Homo sapiens: one gene and its partners. The protein of the gene in region 2 purifies or fractionates together with the protein of the main gene of each other region. This does not show direct contact. Each region holds a gene or a part of one and is shown on either strand. Other genes may lie near its edges.

Region 1 (4,153 bases), on a different chromosome or scaffold from region 2:
ATTTGACAGGAAGAGGCTTTCCTATTGTAAATGCTAATTTACATAAACCTTAACATACTGTGTGAATTGAAAGAAAAGTTGCAAAAATGAGAAACTTTTAAAGAACATTTCTGGGCCCCATACCCCTAGGATCCCGAGAAACCCCAGTGCCCCGGCAGCGATGAGCACAGCCCACGCGTGTGCTGATGGACAGGGACCGCGTGCTGGCAGCTTCCAGACGGCATCCTGTGGGGCTTCAGCCGCCGCTTCTCAGGGAGCTGCATGTGACACTGCAGCAGCACCGCAGCTTCCTGGTCTGGAAGCAGTACCTCACCCTGCTGCCGGACCTGGTGGATAAAGTGGCCCATGGGTGTGAAGCCCTAGGCTTTTCCCTAGTCTTGAAGCCCAACCCCAGAGGGCCTTGCAAGAGATGAAGCACATGCAAAACACCGAGGTCTTCACACTGCACCAGCCCCTGCCAAAGTATGACCACTGTGTGGGTGAGAAGCACCGCTGGGTAGAGCAGCACCTGGAGTCCCAGCTTGTGGAGTGAATTATCCTGACAATGGACAAGACCGTGGTCTTTGGGGACTTGCTCACTGATGACAAGGATACCATTCGAGGCCAAGAGGAGAGGCCACAATCAGTACCTGGTCCTGCCATGCACAGGGAGGTGGCTGCTCTCCTGGAATGGTAACAGGACGGAGATCATAGCCAGCCAGCAGGGAGCTAGGCAGCAGGAACGAACAGGCCCTGCAGGGGGCAGCAGCTGCAGCTGGAGCAATGGTGGGCGGGCAGGCACCAAAACCTCTGCACTGTCACAGGCCCAGCCACCTGGCACCTCCTAGCTGCCATGGAAATACAGTGAGAAAACCAGTTGGAATTCTTTTTATTAAAAAAAAAAGTGACTTCCTGGTCCATACATAAATAAGAACATTGAAACTACTTGAAAATTTTTTGTTGTTGTTGTTTGTTTTTTGTTTTTGTTTTTGTTTTAGATGGAGTTTCACTCTTGTCCCCCAGGCTGGAGTACAATGGCGTGATCTCGGCTCACTGCAACCTCTGCCTCCAGGGTTCCAGCGATTCTCCTGCCTCAGACTCCCGAGTAGGTGGGACTACAGGTGTGCACCACCTCACCTGGCTAATTTTTGTATTTTTAGTAGAGACGGGGTTTCACCATGTTGGCCAGGCTGGTCTCGAACTCTTGATCCGCCTGCCTCGGCCTCCCAAAGTGCTAGGATTACAGGTGTTAGCCACCGCGTCCGGCCTGTTTTTTTTGTTTTGTTTTGTTTGTTTTTAATATTATGTGTCTTTTCTCTTTCCTTACAATGCCTTTTTTTTTTTTTTTTTTTGAGACGGAGTCTCACTCTATTGCCCAGGCTGGAGTGCGTGGCACGATCTTGGCTCACTGCAAACTCCGCCTCCTGGGTTCATGCCATTCTTCTGCCTCAGCGTCCCGAGTAGCTGGGACGACAGGCGCCCGCTACCACGCCCGGCTAATTTTTTGTATTTTTAGTAGAGACGAGTTTTCACCGTGTTAGCCAGGATGGCCTTGATCTCCTGACGTCGTGATCCGCCCGCCTCGGCTTCTCAAAGTGCTGGGATTACAGGCGTGAGCCAGCGCGCCCAGCCCTTACAATGTCTTTTAACTGAGCACTAGGTTTGAGGGACCTCTCAGTTTTGGAGCGGCAGGGGCAATTCCCCAACCAACTTTCCATTCCATTCCTGTCTCCTTACACTAACCTCCGGAATGTTGGAAGCTACATCCTTTCTCCGTATGAAAAGCGCAGGGACGAAAAAAAATAAAAATAAAAAAATAAGTGTAACTCCCCTCAAAGGGCCGGGCGCAGTGGCTCACCCTGCAATCCTAGCTCTTGGGGAGGCAGAGGCGGGAGGATAGCTTGGGTCCAGGAGTTCAAGACCTACCTGGGCAACATAGCCCGGGGTGGTGGTGGTGGGGCGGGAGGAGGGACACACACACAAGCGAAAAGAGCGGGGCGGGGCGAAGGGGACACACACACACACACAGTGGAAAGCGCAGGAACAGGGATGGGCAGAGGGGAACAATTAGCGGAGGTGAGTCACCTGGCGGCAGGAAGAGCGTGCCTCGCACCCGGCCCGCGCGCACCGGCTCGCGCCGCACCCCGGGCGGGAGGAAGTAGCGCTCGTGCCGCACCCGGCACAGCAGCCGCCCGGGGTCGGGGTCGTGGCCATCCAGCACCTCCAGCTCCACGGCCAAGGGCGTTCGCACGTCGCGCTTCACCAGCCGCACCAAGGGTTTCTCGGGCTCCAAGGCCCAGAGCAGCCCCATGGGCTCAAGCCCCGCGAAGCTGCCGCCCAGCGCGGGCGCGCGCTCCAGGTCCAGCTCGCCAAGGGTGTCGGCGCGGTAGCGCGCGTGGGCCTGGAAAAGCGCGCCCTTCTCGTCGCGCAGGGACGCGCGCAGCGTGACCGGCTGCTCCGGGGCTAGGCCGCGCACGGCGATTCGCACCGGTTCGTCCCAGCAGCAGCGGCCCGCGGGCTCCAGGATCAGCGTCGCCGCCATCCGAGCAGGAACCCAAATAATCCGGCCAAACTGCCTCAGCTGTGGAGACCCCTGCAACTCTGCCCAACTCTTCCTCTCGGGCTGCCGTCGCAGGCTAAACGCCCACTAGGGCAGAGCTGTCTGCTAATGTGAGCGGGGAAGGCCAGAGTCCAGCCGATCAGCCAGACCAAATATAGACACACTGGAACTTGCTTAAAGTCTCCTGTGTTGAAACCTCCACTTTATGTTGGAAAGCAACTTCCTAGGTTTGCTTTTCAGAAGCTTGCTGGCTCGCGGAATGGGCTGGGCCAGGACTGGTTCGTCCCGGCTACTCGGGAGGCTGAGGCAGGAGAATGGCGTGATCCCGGGGGGTGGAGCTTGCAGTTGGCCAAGATCATGCCACTGCACTACAGCCTGGGCGACAGAGCGAAAGTCCGTCTCAGAAAAAAAAAAAAACAACAACAACCAGGCAGCTAGCAGTCTCCAGGCTCCAAACTCCTGATGGCGAAGAGGAATGCAGGACTGGAGTTGGTTTTGATCACTTTGTTGAATAATTCACACTCATTACTAATCTTAGGGCTTTTCTTTCAAAATCTGCACCATGGTGTTTTGCTTTCGTGTTCTCTGTATATGCCTATCCTCCACATCACTCCCACATCGAAGGGTGCTGGCTTCTTACTAGCTGTGTGACCTCTGAGCTTTATTCCTTACAGGTGTAAAAATAGCCAAATGAGGTAATAGTTATTAATTTCTCGAACTCCTGACTTTGTGATCCGCCCGCCTCGGCCTCCCAAAGTGCTGGGATTTACAGGCGATGAGCCACCGCGCCCGGCCAATAGTTATTATTTTCTTATACTGGTTTCTCATTTTTGTCCCAGTCAGGCAAGTGTTACCTCTCATCTTTTTTTTTTTTTTTTTTTTTTTTTAAAGAGACAGGGTCTCACTACGTTGCCAGTCTGGAGTACAGCGGCGGTTTACCATCACTGCGCACTTACAAGCCTCAAACTCCTGGGCTAAAGCCATCTTCCTGCCTCAGCCTCTCAAACACCTCAAGGGACTACCGGCGCTCCCCATGCATTGGGCTTTTTTCTACTTTTTCATAGGCTATTGGTTCCAACCAGAGGTGGTTTTTTTTTTTCATCAAACTTAAGCTTTAGGCCCCTCCCAAGCCCTTGTACCTGATTTCATAATTTCCTATCTTGGTAATTAGAGAAACCTATAAATGCGTAAGCTTCAAACTCACAAAACCTGTGTTTGCCTCTGCTCCTAATAAGGCTGTCCTCAAGGTAAGCCTTTTTATCTCTTTCCAAATGCTCTCATGTCCCATGTCCCATGTCATTATCATACAACTCCCTGTTAGTTGTAATTACCTTTGTATAGGTTCTGTGGCACACATCAAGTATATTCTGTGCATAGAAGTCTCAGGAACTAAAGAAGGTAAATAATAGTAGCTAATTGTTAATACTTACAAGAACCGTAGTAGTAAATTAAGGCCCAGAGAATTTAACTGATTTTCTGAAGATCATACAGCTGGGAAGTGGAAGTTGGGTGAGGTGGCTCACGCCTATAATCCCAGTTTACTTGGAGGCTGAGGTGGCAGGGTTTCTTAAGGCCAGGAGTTTCAGACCAACCTGGATAAGACCCTGTCTCTAA
Region 2 (4,233 bases):
TAAAAATATGCACTACAGGCCAGGCCCGGTGGCTCAAGCCTGTAATCCCAGCACTTTGGGAGGCTGAGGTGGGTGGATCACGAGGTCAGGAGTTGGAGACCAGCCTGGCCAAGATAGTAAAACACCGTCTCTACTAAAAATACAAAAATTAGCTGGGCGTGGTGGCAGGCGCCTGTAATCCCAGCTACTTGGGAGGCTGAGGCAGGAGAATCACTTGAACCCGGGAGGCAGAGGTTGCAATAAGCCAAGATCGAGCCATTGAACTCCGGCTTGGGTGACAGGAAAAAAAAAAAAAAAAAACCACTAGGAATTAAGGCACATGAATAACTGTCTTTGTATTTTATTCCAACTTTTTATCATGAATATTGAACATCTATACATCCACATCTAGATTCAACAATTGTTAATATTTACCATATTTGCTTTACCTATCTACATTTTTTCTGAAGCACTTCAAAGTCGTCTGCATCATAATACTTTATCCCTAAATATTTCAAATAAGGATCTTCTCTTGTACAACCACAGTACTATTTATTAAATCTATGAAAATTAACAATAATTCCATAGTATCATCTAAATATTCAGTCCATATTCAGATTTCCTCAACTGTTTCCTCAACTTTTATTCTGGATTTTTTCCAAACCAGGAGTTAATCAAGGCTCACACATTCAAAGTGGTTGTTACCTCTAGTCTCTTTTACTCTAGAATAAGTACTTCCCCTTTCTTCATGATGTTGTCTTTTTAAGATACAAGAACAGTCTGACTGTATCCTCAATGTGAGGTTTATCTCATTTCTCCATCCCCTGTATTTTCTGTAAACCAGCAGTTCAGTCTTTAAACTTAATTTAGGATCATGTTCAACATTTTTGGTAGGAATACCTTGTAGGTGGTACCAGGTGCTTTATATTACAGTATCTGCAAAGTATAAAATGCCCGGCTATCCCATTACTGAGACATTTGATTAAAACTGTGACCACCACACCTCACTATTGGAAAATTATGTTCATTCCTTGCCATTTAGTAAGTAATTTGAGGGGATAATACTTTGATATCATGTGAGTATCTGTTCCCCATTAACCTTTCAATTATTTTATTTACGGTAAAAGATTCTATCATTCTTTCTACATTTATTTATTTATTTATTTATTTTTGAGACAAGGTCTTGCTCTGTCACCCAGCCTGGAGTGCAGTGGCGCCATCTCAGCTCACTGAAACCTCCCCTTTCCTAGTTCAAGCGATTCTCGTGCCTCAACCTCCCGAGTAGCTGGGATTACAGGCATGTGCCACCACGCCCAGCTAATTTTTGTATTTTTAGCAGAGATGGGGTTTCATCATGTTGGCCAGGCTGGTCTCAAACTGCTGACCTCAAACTCCTGGTCTCAAGCAATCCGCCCACCTTGGCTTCCCAAATTGCTGGGATTACAGGCATGAGCCACCACACCTGGCCTCTTTCTACCTTCATTATTGGCACGCATTTTCTGTAAAAAGCTTTCCCTCACCAACTGAAGAGGATCTAAAAGGCAAGGTAAATGCACATTCATTCCCATAATAACCTATTTTTCAAAGTAAGGAATCAGTGTATTAATTACCTCCAATGTTTGCAAATGAATTCCCCCCCCCCCACGTCTTTCTCTATTTTAAGTGTCAAGGTGATCATGTGGAATTTTACTTATTCAAGGTGTTACCATCAGTTTGGATACTTAAGCTTTCCCAAATCTGTCGAGTGAGAGACCCTTAAACCTGGCCTCTTTTGACACATATCCATAGTCTTTAAGCTCTTCCTTGCTTTCTAGCACAAGTTACTCCAGGCTCACCTGGTACTTCCCCTGCTGCTTCTCTTTCTGACCTAGCCACCAAGTTCCTGTGTGACCCTGGGCAGGCCTCCCATTTGATTTACATTTCCCCACTGTTAGAATAAGAAAAATCAGGTTAAGTCCATCCTGCCCCACATGGCCATGGGAAAGATGAAAATAAATAATATACATAACCATGACACTGAAATACTGGTCCTAGGCTGAAAAGACCACCACTACTTAGGAAAACCCCAGACTAGGAGCCACAATCAACAACTCCGGAAACCCTCCACCCACTCGTCTCCCTAAGAGATGCTTCCACTCAAGTGACTCATTCCTTCTCACACTAGAGGGGACTGCTTTTCCTCCCTCCCACCCATCAGTTTATTCTTACCTTCTGCTTTAAACATCTTAGTCACATCCTCCCACAGGGCCACCCGCTCCGTGGCCGCCTTTGGATGACGCAACTTCACCCAGGTGCTGGCCTCGGTGGGCAGGGTGATCAGGAGCTGCTGCAGCATGACGGCGTCCGCACTCCTTTCTGAGGACCCTCTGTCTTAGCCCATAGGGCTTGTCCACCTCTGATGAGGAAATTGCTGGAAGCTCTGACAGGAGGCTTCCCAATTGTACCGATCTCCTTAATCGCCGACTCCTACTCCTCAATGTCCTCTCTCAGGAACCCAGGGAACATACAGTATCAAAATCCGAGATCTGGACTTGTGTCTATCATCGGCTCTCAGGGCGTATCTCCCAACTTGAGCTCCATCTGTCTCCTTGGCCAGCAGCTGGAGGCGCCAAGTATTTACTCTCAGCAGCCCCTGCAGATGCTGAGCAGAAGACATTAGAATCAGCAAAGGACTAAGGAGGCTCAGTCATAGGGCAGAACGCTAGAACATATATGGATCACTGTAAAATGTTTCCAAAAGATACACGGAGACGGTGGGCAGACACAGCCCACAAAATTCAAAGCACCGCGCACATGTCAGGAAGCACAAAGAGACGAATACAACCCAATTCTTTGTTTGGGGCAGTAATTATGTGTAAAGTAGCCGGGGATTTGGAATCCCAGCTCTTTCACTAGTCGGCTGTAGCAAACCGCGAAACCGCTAGACCCCGCCTCCTCCTCCCCAAATGAGAGGCTAAGTCCTCCCCACAAAGCAAAACGCCCCCGGCCCTAGCCTCCCAGCCTTTGTCTGAGCACGACTCCGGGGCTGCGGAGAGCACCGCGCGCGACAGGGTGGCCGCGGGCGGAACTCGCGCTTCCCGGCTCGCCCAGCTCCCCAAGCCCGGGACAGCCACCCGCTCACCCTCTCCCCGCTGGGCCGGCACGCCCCCGCCTTCCCACCGCTGCAGCCGGGTTCCGGCACTGCGCGGCCAAGCTCCCACGTAGCGCTGCGGCGGGCAGTCGGGGCCCAGTGCGCCTGCGCAGCGGCTGGCTAGAGCATGGTTCCCAGCGTCCTCCCGGGGAGCCGCTCCGCCAGCGCAGACGCCCCCACCGGTGCGCGCCGGGTTGGCTGCGTTCAGGGGCTCCCAGTATCCGATCCCTGCGAGCATCATCAGCCTGGCTCCTGCGGGAGGAGATGGAGCCTGCGTTCTTGGGCCCCAGACTCTGATGAAGAACAACCATCTTTCCTCCGCTGGGAAAATGCACGTGAACGTTAGGGTGAGCCTTTGAAACCCGTGACAAAAGGGAGCCATCGGCATCACGTTTTTTGGTGAAACGACACTGGTGTAAAATAATCCATAGCACTTTCCCTAAATATTATGTACATGCCAGTTATTTATTCTCAGCAGACAGTTGAATGGATTCCGGTATATTGTTAAAAGAATACCACAACAGTTTTCTCTTCTAGTATTCAATAAAAGTTCTCATGTTTATTGCTTACCTTGTATTTCTGAAATGCCAGAAAATACACAAAAACAAAAAAATTATTGCCTGTAATTTCAGCAAGCAGCGGTAACCTTGCTAACAGTTGGTGTACAACCTTTCCTGCACACACACAACGTATTTCATGCATTGTTATATATTTTCCACAAAAGCGATTATACTGTAATGCTGTTTTATTGCTGAGTTTTCTCCCTCCAACAAAATTTGAGTACATCACTCCAAATACATTTCTACATCAACAGTTTACAAAAACAACAAATGAGGAAATAGAATACAATTATAGTACTTGCTAGCTGTTATGAACCGAATGTTTGGATTCCCCAAAATTTATCTTGAAGCCCTAACCTCCATTGTATTTGGAGAGTATTTAGAGATAAGGCCTTTATGGAAGTAATTAAGGTTAGAATATAGTCCTAGTCAGAAACGAACCCAACTCGACCTTACTTGGGGCTTCTAGTCTCCACACTGAGAAAATAAATTTCCGGTTTTTTGTTTGTTTGTTTGTTTGTTTTTTTGAGATGGAGTCTCGCACTGTCCGCAGGGCTGGACTGC
Region 3 (3,500 bases), on a different chromosome or scaffold from region 2:
CTCCACCCCCAGCTTGAGGTGGCTCAGAACAGAGAGAGAGACAGAGAGAGAGAGAGAGAGTGAGAGAGAGAGAGAGACTCTGTATTTTTGGGAGGAAGTAAGGGAAGAAAGCAAGAGTATGTGCTGGAATCCAGAGAAGTATCTTGGATCTTGTCCAAGACCATCAAGGCAATACATCTACAAGTCTGCAAGAACCACAGCGTTACTAGGCTTGGGGTGCCCCCTAAAGCAGAAACAGCTTAGATTACAACACCTAAGTCCTTTCAAATATCTGGAAAGCCTTTCCAAGAAGGACGGCTACAAATAAGCCCAGACAATGAAGACTACAATAAACACCTAACTCTTCAATGCCCAGACACTGAAGAATGTCTGCTAGCATCAACGCCATTCAGGAAAACCATGACCTCATCAAATGAATTAAATAAGGTGCCAGGGACTAACGCTGGAGAAACAGATATAAGCGACCTTTCAGACAGAGAATTCAAAATAGCTGTGTTGAGGAAACTCAAAGAAATTCCAAATAACACAGAGGAGGAATTCAGAATTCCAGCATATAAATTTAACAAAGAGATTGAAATCATTAGAAAGAATCAAGCAGAAATTCTGGAGCTGAAAAATGCAATCGGCATAATGAAGAATGCATCAAAGTCCTTTAATAGCAGAATGGACCAAACACAAGAAATAATTACTGAGCTTGAAGACAGGCCATTTGAAAATACATGGTCAGAGGAGACAAAAGAAAAAAGAATAAACAACAATGAAGCATGCTTATAGGATCTAGAAAATAGCCTCAAAGGGGCAAATCTAATAGTTATTGCCCATAAAGTGGAGGTAGAGAAAGAGATAGGAGTAGAAAGTTTATTCAAAGGGATAATAACAGAAAACTTTCCAAACCTAGAGAAAGATACCTATATTCAAGTATGAGAAGGCTAGAGAACACCAAGCACATTTAACCCAAAGAAAACTACCTCAAGGCATTTAATAATCAAACTCCCAAAGGTCAAGGATAAAGAAAAGATTCTAAAAGCAGCAAGAGAAGAGATAAATAACAAACAATGGAGTTCCAATACATCTGGCAGCAGCCTTTTCAGTGGAACCCTTACAGGCCAGGAGAGAGTGGCATGACATATTTAAAGTGCTGAAGAAAAAAAAACCTTTTACCCCAGAATAGTATATCTGGTGAAAATATCCTTCAAACAGGAAGGAGAAATAAAGACTTTCCAAGACAAAAGTTGAGGAATTTTATCAATTCCAGACCGATCCTACAAGAAATGCTACAGGGAGTACTTCAATCAGAAAGAAAAGGAAGCTCATGAGCAAGAAGAAATCATCTGAAGGTACAAAACTCACTGGTAATAGTAAGTACACAGAAATACACAGAATATTATAACATTGTAACTGTGTGTGCAAACTACTGTTATCCTACATATAAAGACTAAACAATGAACAAATCAAAAATAATAACTAAACAACTTTTTAAGATATAGGCAGTACAACAAGATATAAATGAAAATCACAAAGAGTTAAAAAGTAGGGAGCAAAGTTAAGACTAGTTTCTATTAGTTTTCTTCTTGCTGTGTGTTTGTTTATGCAAATAGTGTTAAGTTGTTATCAGGTTAAAATAAGGTTTATAAGATAGTATTTGCAAGCCTTATGGTAACTGTCATGGGTGGCAACTCTCTGAGACTGGTGTGGCATGGGAGGTAAAAAGAATTTACCAAGATACTTGTAGGTAAAGAAAGGCAGATTTATTAGAGAAAGTAGGAAAATATGTTGCAAGATAGTCAGCAAGAGAAGAGCTGGCTGCAAGGAGACAAAGGCTTGCTGAGGATTTTATAGGATGGTGCTTGTGCTGCAGAGAGCTAGATGCAGTATTGATAATGCCAAGGTTGCAGTGAGATAACTTGCATTTTTCTATCAGCTGAGGGTCTGGTGATCGCTGGGTGCAGGAAGATTATGTTATTTTTGCAGGAGGGCTATGTGTCCTAGACCATGAAGAAAGGGAGACTTATAGTTCATCTGCTTTTTCTTTTTTGCTTTCCCCTGGTCCTGCCAGCCTAGCTCTTTTTCCCTAATTAGGGCTCCACATTTCCCCCCTGACATAGCAACAATGACAAATCTTTGGCATGTGAGTGAAGGTCTCATCTTCCAACTGCTTCCTACTGACCAAGGGTATAGAGTTGGCCCTACCTAAGATTGTTGGCCTATCAGGAGGTTACATGGACCTAGATCCCTGGGTTGGCCCCTAAATTGGGGAGGGTCACTGTTGGACTATGGAAGAACAGCATTTGCAGCCTAAAAAAGAGACTGTTCTCTCCCATTTGAATGGTCTTGACACCCTCATAAAATTTGGAACTTACTCAATTGACCAAGGATGTATGGGTTTATTTCTGAATTCTCTGTTCCATAGATCAACATAAAAAGATGTTGTATGAGGCAATTGGAGGTAAATTAATTATGGGCTAGAAATGAGATAATATTAAAGTATTATTATTGTGTTAGGTGTGATAACGATATTGTGGCCGTGTAACAAATTTTACTTATTTTTTATATTTAATAAAATATTCAATGATGGAATGACAAGCCAAGAATTTCCACTAAAAAAATGACAGCCAAAAAGTTTCTTTAAAAGGTCAGAATAAGGGGATAGATGAATTAATACAGCAAAACACTGAAAATTATTTAGCCTAAGGATTGATATACAGGTGCACATTACACTATAGTCTTTTCATTTTGTATGTTTGAAAACTTTGAAAATAAATACTTGAAGTAAACAATTTTAGTGGGAGGCCTTAGTCTTGTCAACCAAAAGTTAACTTTGAATTTGGATCTTGGACTATAGCCAGAATCTTAGAGCAATGGGGAAAGCACAGATCTTTTCTTGCTCTGTAACCACATCCTATCCCCAGGTCTGCAGAGCTGCACCTACCATGGATGGTATAGATGAAGCCTGAATTCTTTTCCCCTAAAACCAGTCATCAATTCTGTTGGAACTCACCAAAAATTCAAAGAGACTAAGAGTGACTTCCTCTTTTTCTCATTAAAACTATTTCAATGTTCTGCTGAATTATTTACACATCACTAATCAACACACACACATTAGAATACTGAAATGTAAAAGAATGACCATACCAATTGATATAGTTTAAAAGTTTGTCCCCTCCAAATCCCATGTTGAAATTGGAGATGGGGCCATCTGCCATCATTGTTAAAGTATTTAATTACATCCCTGGCTGTAATTCTCCTGGATAGACTCAAGGAGATTTTGTTACAGGAGATCTTCAAGAAATCCCCTGTGCAGGGTCTGGGACACTGCACGCAAACACACCTGCACATACACAAACACATACATGTGCAAACACATACTCTATCATCAAGTAATGCTTCCTTCTCATCAGACAGATGAGACTCAGACTCTGAATCCTGTTTCCCAGCAAGATGTAACCAACTGCATGCTTTTCCCAGACACATCCTGGCATCTGAAACAAGGAAAGAGCAAT
Region 4 (4,084 bases), on a different chromosome or scaffold from region 2:
GAATAATATCTATATCTAATAATTCATTCCTAAACAGGCAAATTTTTTAAATTTTAAGTTCAGGGGTACAGGTGCAGGTTTGTTACATAGATAAACTTGTATCATGGGGGTTTGTTGTACAGATTATTTCATCACCCAGGTATTAAGCCTAGTATCTATTAGTTATTTTTCCTGATTCTCTCCCTCCTCCCTCCAATATGCCCCACTGTGTGTTGCTCCCCTCTATGTGTCCATGTGTTCTCATTATTTAGCTCATACTTATAAGGAGAATATGTGGTATCTGGTTTTCTGTTCCTGCATTAGTTTGCTAAGGATAATGTCCTGCAGCTCCATCTATGTCCCTGCAAAGGACATTACCTCATTCTACTTTTTATGGCTGTATAATATTTCATGGTGTATATGTGTCACATTTTCTTTATCCAGTCTATGATGGATGGACATTTAAGTTGCTTCCATGTCTTTGCTACTGTGAATAGTGCTGCAATGAACATACACATGCATGCGTAGTTATGATAGACTGATTTATATCCTTTTGGGTGTATTCCCAGTAATGGGATTGCTGGGTCGAATGGTATTTCTGTCTTTAGGTCTTTGAGGATTCGCCACACTGTCCTCCATAATGGCTGAACTAATTTACACTCTCACTAACAGTGTATACGCATTCCTTTTTCTCTAAAACCTCGCCAGCATCTAAATCAGCAATTTTTAATGCTCATATTCTTGTAGCTCATTCAAATTTGAAAGGGATATCCTTTTTGATTCAGAAGAAATAGAAACATCAGAAAAAAACAAAAGAGACTAGAATTTTTTTAACCATAAGATTAATTAAATAGATAATGATGGATTATTGCATCTTATTGATGACTCGAAACACAGCTTCATGGATAATGTAGCTTAAAGAAAGTACAATCACAAAGTTTATCAACTGAATTAGGATATTTTTGAGAGTAAAAGGGAGCAACATTAATAATTATGCTGAGGGTAAGTAAAAATAGGCAGAAAATGGGACAATGGAATTGTCTCCAGCAAATCATAATATGTGGTCATTCTACCTGAAGTTGTGCAGATGATACCTAAACCAATAAATGCTAAAATGATTGATGAAAGGTGGTGAACACTTGAATGAGCAATTTCAGAAATTCAAAAATATAGTTAGAAAGCACAAAAATCTAGTGTTCAGTGGCAAAATAGGGTAGCTATAGTTAACAATAATTTATTGTATAGTTCAAAATAACTAGGAGTAGATTTATAATTTTCTCTACACAAAGCAATGACAAATGTCTGAGGCGACAGATATATCTCAATTACCCAGATTTCATTATTACACATTGTATGCTTGTATCAAAATGTCACATTTATCTCATAAATATGTACAACTATGATGTATCCACAAAAATAAAACAAATAAATTCGCTAATGGGTAAAAACCTCAAAGGGCAGCTGCCTGTTGGTCTCTAGAGTACAATCCTAGGTTTTTTGGTTGGGTCTTACATCCTTTTGTTGTTGCTATTTTTGTTTGGAGGGGAGTGCGTTTTCTGTTTGTTTTATTGGGGTGGGGGGTGTTGAGAGAAAAGTTTTAAGTGAAATTTTATTGTTCCTTTGGAAACTAGTCCCCAACAATGGTCTGGCTTCTTTTGTGAGGGCCTCAGGATTTTGATCCCAGAATATAATGCAGTGGCTCATGATAAATTTTATTGCTATAAACCCTGAAGAAAGTTCTGCTCATTAGTTAATAGCATCTTATTTCGAGTCACAATATTCGGGATTCCACCATCTTGGGAAAGTGATTTAACACAGGAGCCAAAGCAATCATTTTCAAAAGAAAACAATTTAAACATCACTCATCAGTTCACAATCTTCACTTCTTTTAGAACCAACACACAAATCCCACAGGATATTTCCTGGCCCCTTCCTGTTATTCCAGCCTCAACTCCTATGTGGCTCCCCTCACTTGCTGTTCCAGTCACTCAGGTTCCACTTAGAAGAGTGGTTGACAAATTCAGCTAATGTTGCCCCCACCGCCCCCAAGGACATTTGGATTTGGCAATGTCTGGAGAGATTTTTAGCTGTCACAACTTGGTGGTGATGGTGGTGGTGGTTGGTTGGGGGGAGTACTGGCATCTAATGGCTAGAGATTAGGGATGCTACTGCTAAGCATCATGCACAGGGCAGCCCCCAATAAAGAAACATCCTGACTCAAAATGTTAATAATGCTGAAGTTCAGAGCTCGATTTTCATCTTTCCTCAGACCATGCTTCCCAGATCTTGCACACATTGTTCTCTTTGCCTAAAATATTCAGGCTATTTTCCCTTATCCTCCTTTCCCGTTGCCCTTTCTTCTCTTTTCTGGTCTTCTCTAACTCCCACTCACCCTTTGATAACCCTCTTATAGTGGCTTTACAGACTCTTCTTCCCAGATGAATGTTACTCTTTCAAAGAATTATGGAACACTAAAGAATATTAGTAGCAATTTCACATGCATTTGTATGTGTTCGATTACCCCTCTCCACCACCAACTCCAGGTGGGTAGATGTCACCTAGCTTATATTTACCACAGTATCCCCAGCAGCTAGCACAGAATGAATGAATACTTAATAGCTTCACTTACAAAAGGGAAATAGGGTAACCATCTCATTAGGTTGTAAAGATTAAATAATACATACAAACACTTTAGCACAGTGCTTGAATCACAGTAAATGCTGACACCGAGGCATTGTAGGCATTGTAGTTTGTGGACAGGAGAGGGGACTCCGTCTGTCTCATTTTAGCGCCTCCCAGTCTTCCTCCATCACCTAGGTCTGAGAAACTCCTCCTCCTACCTACGAGTAAGCAGCAATTGCTACGCCTGCGCTTTCCTGGTTCCACCCCTAACCAGGCTGCCGGAAGCACTTTCCTCTTTGGCACGGGCCAGCCGCAGGTTGGGTAGATACTGCGCAAGCTCCATACTCGTGTCTCCTCCTCCCGCCCACCGGTGCCCAACCTGCTAACACGCCTGCGCGAGCGGGCGTGCCCCGGAAGCCGTTCTTTGGCCCTGTGACACGTAGCAACGGGGCTGGTTCAGGGTCTGAAACAGAGTTTGGGGGTTGTTTGGGATTAGTGAAGCTACTGCCTTTGCCGCCAGCGCAGCCTCAGAGTTTGGTGAGTGACCCAGGCCCGTGGCACAGTGTTCAGCTTCTCTCCACACCCGTGCAAATGGGCTTGTTGCCGTCTTTCGGCGCCGCGCCCTGGTCCTTTCGCTCAGACCCTCGCTCTCATTCAAGCCCTTGCCCTGACGCGGTCCCCTGCACCTCAGGCGCGACCTTCCAGATTCTGCACTTTTTCCTGGCAGGCCGCAGGCCTTATTTTGCAAGGAAGCAGTCGCCTTGTCAGCTGTAAAGCCCAGTCCTAAGGTGAAAAATCATCTTTGTTGTTATTGATATTTTAGACCGCTTATGGAACCACAACTCCCACGACCTCGCCCCTAATGGAAGGCATATCAGCTCTTTAAGGTGGAGTTGTCTTACTGGGCCGCAACTTAAAAGAATATACATTTTCTTACTCTCTCTCCGCTACCGTCGTTCAAATGCTGCGTACTTTCCGCCCCCATCCCCTCTCCGAATTACTGAAAAAATATTTGTTGTGTTTCTATTTGCTTAAGCAGACTGCCAGGAACGAATTCAGTAGAACCTTGGGCATAAGGAATATTTGCCATTTCTCTTTTATTACAGATTATTTGCAATGTCAGGCTTTGAAAACTTAAACACGGATTTCTACCAGACAAGTTACAGCATCGATGATCAGTCACAGCAGTCCTATGATTATGGAGGAAGTGGAGGACCCTATAGCAAGTAACTTTTCATCTTTGGCAATTAATTTAGTCTACATTGCAGTGAAAACACATATTTAGAATATTTGGTTCTGCCTAAAACAATATGTGAACATGTCCTTTATCAGGAGTATGATCTTTCATGCATAATCTTCTTCCTCTAGAGAGATATGTGACACTGGCTTGGCTTCGAAGGTATTGTTCTATTTAAGAGTTGAGTGTCTTCTGCAAACTCTTCAGGTGTACCATGAATGGAAAAGTAGCTTGTTTGAAGAACTG

Evidence for each region.
Region 1: the proteins of ZFP69B (region 2) and ACOT1 purify together in Homo sapiens (affinity purification with mass spectrometry; one large-scale study listed by BioGRID and IntAct). This does not show direct contact.
Region 3: the proteins of ZFP69B (region 2) and UGT1A10 purify together in Homo sapiens (affinity purification with mass spectrometry; one large-scale study listed by BioGRID and IntAct). This does not show direct contact.
Region 4: the proteins of ZFP69B (region 2) and KCTD16 purify together in Homo sapiens (affinity purification with mass spectrometry; one large-scale study listed by BioGRID and IntAct). This does not show direct contact.

Annotation. Positions count from the first base shown.
Region 1 is NC_000014.9:73,535,790-73,539,942, reverse strand, and holds the start of ACOT1 (acyl-coenzyme A thioesterase 1), read right to left. Parts: upstream 2,801-4,153; 5' UTR 2,522-2,800; coding exon 2,065-2,521; intron 1-2,064. UniProt on the Homo sapiens protein: Catalyzes the hydrolysis of acyl-CoAs into free fatty acids and coenzyme A (CoASH), regulating their respective intracellular levels. More active towards saturated and unsaturated long chain fatty acyl-CoAs (C12-C20).
Region 2 is NC_000001.11:40,449,043-40,453,275, reverse strand, and holds the start of ZFP69B (zinc finger protein 69 homolog B), read right to left. Parts: upstream 2,801-4,233; 5' UTR 2,315-2,800; coding exon 2,188-2,314; intron 1-2,187. UniProt on the Homo sapiens protein: May be involved in transcriptional regulation. Essential for Golgi structural integrity.
Region 3 is NC_000002.12:233,639,448-233,642,947, reverse strand, and holds part of UGT1A10 (UDP-glucuronosyltransferase 1A10 precursor), read right to left. Parts: intron 1-3,500.
Region 4 is NC_000005.10:144,169,589-144,173,672, reverse strand, and holds the start of KCTD16 (BTB/POZ domain-containing protein KCTD16), read right to left. Parts: upstream 2,801-4,084; 5' UTR 2,664-2,800; intron 1-2,663. Other genes in the region: protein YIPF5, read left to right, coding at 3,718-3,827. UniProt on the Homo sapiens protein: Auxiliary subunit of GABA-B receptors that determine the pharmacology and kinetics of the receptor response. Increases agonist potency and markedly alter the G-protein signaling of the receptors by accelerating onset and promoting desensitization.